Linked DNA regions of Homo sapiens. The protein of the gene in region 1 purifies or fractionates together with the protein of each later gene. This does not show direct contact. Each region holds a gene or a part of one and is shown on either strand. Other genes may lie near its edges.

What was found. Proteins that work in one complex are often made in the same cells at the same time.
Region 2: the proteins of RABL2B (region 1) and CEP350 purify together in Homo sapiens (affinity purification with mass spectrometry; one large-scale study listed by BioGRID and IntAct). This does not show direct contact.

What each region holds. Positions count from the first base shown.
Region 1 is NC_000022.11:50,767,003-50,770,325, forward strand, and holds the end of RABL2B (rab-like protein 2B), read right to left. Parts: intron 3,015-3,323; coding exon 2,903-3,014; coding exon of another isoform or gene 2,874-2,902; exon of another isoform or gene 2,551-2,873; coding exon 2,453-2,550; coding exon of another isoform or gene 2,423-2,452; intron 2,123-2,422; coding exon 2,039-2,122; intron 1,873-2,038; coding exon 1,774-1,872; 3' UTR 504-1,773; downstream 1-503. UniProt on the Homo sapiens protein: Small GTPase required for ciliation. Activated in a guanine nucleotide exchange factor (GEF)-independent manner via its intrinsic GDP for GTP nucleotide exchange ability.
Region 2 is NC_000001.11:179,961,310-179,964,809, reverse strand, and holds part of CEP350 (centrosome-associated protein 350), read right to left. Parts: intron 1-3,500. UniProt on the Homo sapiens protein: Plays an essential role in centriole growth by stabilizing a procentriolar seed composed of at least, SASS6 and CPAP. Required for anchoring microtubules to the centrosomes and for the integrity of the microtubule network.

The DNA.
Region 1 (3,323 bases):
ACCCTAATTAAGTCATTTGAACCACGGCCTTCTCAGGGTCAGCTTCTAAGGAACCTGATACAGAATAGTCCCATAAAACCAACACGATGGTGAACTTTATAGTCTGCAAATTCTATCTCAGTAAGGCTGTTGTATTTTTTTTTAAGTACTTAGTAGTTATTTACAGTAACTACATTTTTTTAAGTTCTACCTCATCAGGGTATACGTTCCTGGGAACCCCTGGTCAGGTCAAACATCTTACGTTGAACATCTAAGTATTGCTGATTTCAAGGGGAAATGTGCTTGTTCTTGAGCTCCCAAATTAATAGGTAATTGAATTCTTTTGAAAACACTAAATTCCACTGAAATGGCCTCCAATATAGTGAATTGAGAGTAAACATGGGCTACCCTGCAACAGGTCAAGGCAGCTACCCCTCATTGATAAGGGTGATGATTTGCAGATTCTTTTGTCTTTTTGCTCAGTACACACTTCAGAGCCACAAAGCACATACATTTACTCAATGTTTATGTAATTCAGCCTTTACTGTAAAAAAGGAAACAACAAAAACAAAACCCTATTAATAAACACAATGCAAACAATGCCCGAGATTATCATAAAAACATACTAGCAAGCCACAAGTACCAGAGAGGGGTGAACAGGCATATCTGCTAGCTCTCCTCTTGCAGTCCTCAGCCTCCCACAGGAGGCACAAGGTCCAAACTATTCCTCAAAAAAAAGGACAGCCTCTTTATGCTGAAATAGGAACTTTAAAGGAAGCTCTTCTTGTAGTCCAAATGGACGTACCTTGTGGTATGGCTGTAAGGACTCGATTTTACGGCTTGTGTATTCCTAACTATAGCTAGGCCTGTCACCTGCTGTTCCTGTGATCTCAGCTTTACCTAGAAGAGCTCCTGAAACAGAATGGGTACACGAAAATCTGGAATGAATAGCTATCTGCTCAAAAACGATTGTTTAAAAACAGATGATTGGGGCCGGGCGCGGTGGCTCATGCCTGTAATCCCAGCACTTTGGGAGGCCGAGGCGGGCGGATCACGAGGTGAGGAGATCGAGACCATCCTGGGCAACATGGTGAAACCCCGTCTCTACTAAAAATACAAAAATTAGCTGGGCGTGGTGATGCCAGCCACTCGGGAGGCTGAGGCAGGAGAATCGTTTGAACCAGGGAGTCAGAGGTTGCAGCGAGCCGAGACTGCGCCACTGCACTCCAGCCTGGCGACAGAGCGAGACTCCGTCTCAGAACGAACAAAGAAACAAACAAACCAGATGACTGGGAGACTGAAGAGGAAAAAAGATGGGAGAAAACGTAGGGAAAGGATGGGGCCTCACAGACTCAGCTGTGGGTGGGGGGGTAAATCATTACCTCAGGAGAAGCCCAAGGAATTGTCCCCGAGGTGAGCTTTGGAAAGAAAACAAAAACAAAAACAAAAACACCAAAAAACACCTAAATTTCCTGTATTAAAGTGACACATAATCATGTTTTCTGATTCTCTTCACTGTCTGCCTGCGGGGAGGGGGTGGGGAAGGTGTTAATGATGCTGATCCCTACTTCTGCTTCAAGGAGATCTGGTGGGGAATTCTTCCACCAGTCCAGAGTTTGCTGGTGCTGACCTCATCCCTGTATCACGGGCCTAGAATGTGGGAGGCTAATAGGATGGGTGGGTTGCAGGAGGTAGAAGAGGGGATGGCCTAGAGAGTTTCTCCATTCAGAGCTGGAGAGTTGTTGAAGGGAAGGGTATTTTAAAAGGGCTCCACCCACCCCTAGCCCCAGCCCCTCAGCTGTGGGGAGAGGCCGCCTCCTCTGATGGGGTCTCGATGCTGCTGCTCTGTTCCTGGTCTGGCACGTCCTCCTCTTCCTGCTCCAAGCTGAAGTTCTGTGAACAAGGTCGCAGGTGAGGCCTGGCCCTGCATTTGCTCAACCGCAGCTCTGATACATTTAGTGGGGCAAACTTAGGCAAGAGTCACTCTACTGGGTTGTAGTCCCTATCCCTGAAGAGGAGCCGTTTCTTCCATCCCACCCGAAATGTGGACCTGACCTACCTCGAGCTCCTGAAAAATCTCATCCATGAAGTCCTGGGAGTTCTGTTTGTAAGACACAGCTAATCGAATTGCATCATTGAAGAGCTGGGGGTGAGGTAGAGATGGTGGATGAGAGTGCCTTGGACTCTGCCCAGTCCACCCCACTGGCCCCACTGTGAGACTACACAATACTCCATTCCTAAAATCAGCAACCTTACCCCTCCATTTGCCTCTCCCCGTCACCCTGACCTATGTATGGTCAATGGACTTCTGCCTCATCAAGTCCAGGCCCATCAGCTCCTCCCCTCCCTGCCACCCATGCCCATGCACTGTCCCGGTTCTCTCCATCACACCTGCAGTAAGCCCTTCTCTTCACAGCTTCCCTTTACCACCTAGCGCCCTGACCTTGCTAGCTACCTCTGCAGTCAACCACACCTTCACAACATTGGTACCATCAGCAGCCGAGACGAAATACAGGGGCAGGGAGAACTTCTTGGCAAAATTGAAGCTTTTTTGGGTCACGTTTATGTCTGCTGTAGAGAGAAGGTAGGACATTGGTCTGTCTGTCAAGGGAAGGGAAGAAGGTTTGGAGGGGGGGGCCACTGGAGGCCTTCATTCCAGAAAGTGGGATAGGCAGGGATGATTGGGAAACAGGTCCTAGAAAGAGCTCAGTTAATAGGGATCTGTGTCTTGGAAAGAGGGCAGGTCGGCTTAGCTGGCTTCTTTATAAGGTGGGAAGAATGCAAGCAACCAACCAAGGGTTGTATCTTATCGTGGGAGGGAGGACCAATCACTGAAGGTTGCCTGCCCGGGGAATGGAGGAGGAAATGTATGAGGGCAGGTCCCCAGTGAATTGCTAACACCCAGGTGCAGGGATGGCCCCACCATCAATTTTATTGGCCACCACGATGCATGGGATCTCTGGCCTGAACTCCCGAAGCTCTGTATACCAGGTGCTCAGGTTCCTATAGGTGACTTTCCTCTGTACATCAAACACCTGCAAAGGGCAGAGGAAGAAAGATAGCTCAGGTATGTCAATGTTTCTGCACCCCATCTCCAGGTGACTCACACACCCAAGCAGGTAAGCACGAGCACATGGTGCTGTTTGTGGGAACGCTCTGAATTGCAGCCTCTCTGACCGCAGAGGCTGCCGTTTCTCAGGGAAGCCCCCTGGAGCCTCCAGATGCGAAAATGTTTTTAAAAATCTTATTCTTGGCCCAGTGCAGTGGCTCACACCTGTAATCCCAGCACTTTGGGAGGTTGAGGTGGGTCAATCACCTGAGGTCAGGAGTTTGAGACCAGCCTG
Region 2 (3,500 bases), on another chromosome or scaffold:
AAGCAAGATAGATAAACCTCTAAGTAAATTAAAAAAAAAAAAAGTGAGAAGATCCTAAGAAGCATAATCAGAAATGACAAAGGTGACAGAACTCATACTACAAAAATACAAAAGAGCCTCAGAGACTACTATGAACATCTTTATGTGCACAAACTAGAAAAACCAGAGGAAATGGATAAATTCTTGGAAACACACAACCTCCCAAGATTGAACAAGGAAGAAACTGAAATCCTGAACAGATCATAACAATTTACAAAATTGAATCAGTTATAAAAACAAATCTACAAACCAAAAAAAGACCAGGATCAGATGCATTCACAGCCAAATTATACCAGACAAACAAAGAAGAGCTGGTATCAATCTTACTGAAACTACTCCAAAAAATCAAGATCACACTGAATGGACAAAAGTTAGAAGCATCCCCTCTATGAACTGAAAAAAGACAAGGATGTGCACTCTTACGACTCCTATTCAACATAATACTTTCCATCCTACCCATAGGAATCAGGCAGAAAATTAAAATTTAAAAAAAGGCATCCATATAGGAAAAGAGAAACTCAAATTATCTCTGTTCAACCCTAAGGAGTCCTTCAAAAAACTCCTAGACCTAAGAAAAAGACTTCAGTAAAGTTTCAGGATGCAAAATCAACTTACAACAGTCAGTGGCATTTCTATATGCCAATAATGTTCAAGCTGAGAACCAAATCAAAAATGCAATCCCATCTATAATAGCCACATGAAAAATAAAATACCCAGGAATAAATTTAACCAGGGAGGTGAAAGATTTCTACAAGGAGAACTACAAAACACTGATGAAGGAAATAACAGATGACACAAACAAATGGAAAAACATTCCATGCTCATGGATTGGAAGAATCAAAATTTAAATGACCATACTGCCCAAAACAATCCAAAAATTCTATTCCCATCAAATTAGCAACATCATTTTTCACAAATTAGAAAAAACAATTCTAAAATTCATATGGAACCAAAAAAGAGCCTGAATAGCCAAGCAAAAAGAACACAGCAGGAGGCATCACATTACCCAACTTCAAACTATACTACAAGGATATCCTAACCAAAACAGCATGTTACCAATACAAAAACAGACATCTGTATCAATGTAACAGAATAGAGAACCCAGAAATAAAGCCATACACCTATAACCAGTTGATCTTGAACAAAGCTGACAAAAGCAAAAATGGGGAAAGGACACCTATTCAATAAACAGTGCTAAAAAGAAAAAAAAACCCAAAAAACACACAAAAAAACTGGCTAGCATGTGCAGAAGAATGAAACTGGACCCCCTACCTTTCACCACATACAAAAATTAACTCAAGACGTATTAAAGACTTAAACATAAAACCTCAAACTATAAAGATCCTATTTTAAAAAACCTAGGAAAAACTCTTCTGCACATGGGCCTAGGCAAAGAATTTATGACTAAAACCTCAAAGGCAAATGCAACAAAACAAAAATTCATAAACAAGATTTAATTAAACTAAAAAGCTTCTACATAGCAAAAGAATCAACAAAGTAAAGAGGTAACCTAAAGAATGGGAAAAAAATATTTGCAAACTGTACATCTGACAAAGGACTAGGATCCAGAATCTACAAGGAATCTCAAACAAATGAACAAGAAAAAAAAAATAACTCCATTAAAAAGTGAGCAATGGACATAAACGGATACTTCTCAAAAGAAGACATACAAGTGGCCAACAAACATATGAAAAAAATGCTCAGAATCACTAATCATCAATAAAATACAAATTAAAACCACACTGATACCATCTCACACCAGTCAGAATTGCTATTATTAAAGAGTTAAAAAATAACAGATGACAAGGATGCAGAGAAAAGGGAGTATCATACACTGCTGGTGGGAATGTAAATTAGTTCAACCCCTGTGGAAAAGAGTAGAGGGATTTCTCAAAGAACTTAGAACTATCATTAGACCCAGCATTCCCACTACTGGGTATCTATCCAAAGGAAAAGAAATCATTCTATCAAAAAGACACTGCACTAGTATGTTTATCACAGCACTATTCACAACAGCAAAGTCATTGAATCAAACTAAGTACCTATCAACAGTAGATCAGATAGGCCGGGAGCAGTGGCTCATGCCTGTAATCCCAGCACTTTGGGAGGCCGAGGTGGGCAGATCATGAGGTCAGGAGTTTGAGACCAGCCTGACCAACATAGTGAAACTCCATCTCTACTAAAAATACAAAAATCAGCCAGGCATGGTGGCATGTGCCTGTAATCCCAGCTACTCAGGAGGCTGAGGCAGGAGAATTGCTTGGACCCGGGAGGCGGAAGTTGCAGTGAGCCAAGATCACGTCACTGCGCTCCAGCGTGAGCAACAGAGCGAGACTCTGCCTCAAAAACAAAACAAAACAAACAAACAAACAAAAAACAGTAGATTAGATAAAGAAAATGTGGTACATATACACCGTGGAATACTACGTAGCCATAAAAATGAATGAAATCATGTCCTTTGGAGCAACATGGATGCAGCTGGAGGTCATTATCCTAAGCAAATTAATGCAGAAACAGAAAATCAAATATCACACCTTCTCTCACTTGTAAGTGGGGTCTAAACAATAGGTAAATATAGACATAAAGATGAAAATAAGATACTGTGGATTCCAAAAGTGGGAAAGGGCCGGGCGTGGTGGCTCACGCCTGTAATACCAGTACCTTGGGAGGCCAAGGTGGGCAGACCACTTGAGCTCACAAGTTTGAGACCAGCCTGGCCAACATGGTGAAACCCCATCTCTCCTAAAAATACAAAAAATTAGCCGGGCATGGTGGCTCGTACCTGTAGTCCAAGCTACTCGGGAGGCTGAGGCAGGAGAATCGCTTAAACCTGGGAGGCAGAAGTTGCAATGAGCCTAGATCAAGCCACTGCACTCCAGCCTGGGTGACAGAGACTCCATCTCAAAAAAAAAGGTGGGAAGTGACAGGTAAGGGGTAAAGGTTGAAAAACAACCTACTGGGTACTATGTTCGCTATTTCAGTGATAGGTTCAACAGAAGCCCAAACCTCAGCATGATGCAATATACCCATGTAACGAACCTGCACGTGTATCCCCCACAACCCAAATCTAAAATAAAAGCTAAAGCGTAGTCTAACTTCATTTATAACTAACCAGAGAAACAAACCGTATTAAAGCTGGACGTTAGGAGTCAACCAGCATCATATTATCAAGTGTGTAGTCATGACCCGTTAGTAGATTAAAACAAAACAAAACAATATCGTGGATTGGAGCTAGCATTTTTTTAATGGAACTAAATAGGATTGATTTGCAAATATCAAGTGTATTGAAGGTAGTGAGCGCTTTATTTTATTTTATTTTATTTTTGAGACACAGTCTCTCTGTCGCCCTGGCTGGAGTGCAGTGACGCGATCTCGGCTCACTGCAACCTACACCTCCCAGGTTCAAGTGATTCTCCTGCCTTAGCCTACTGAGTAACTGGGATTACAGGTGCGCGCCACCA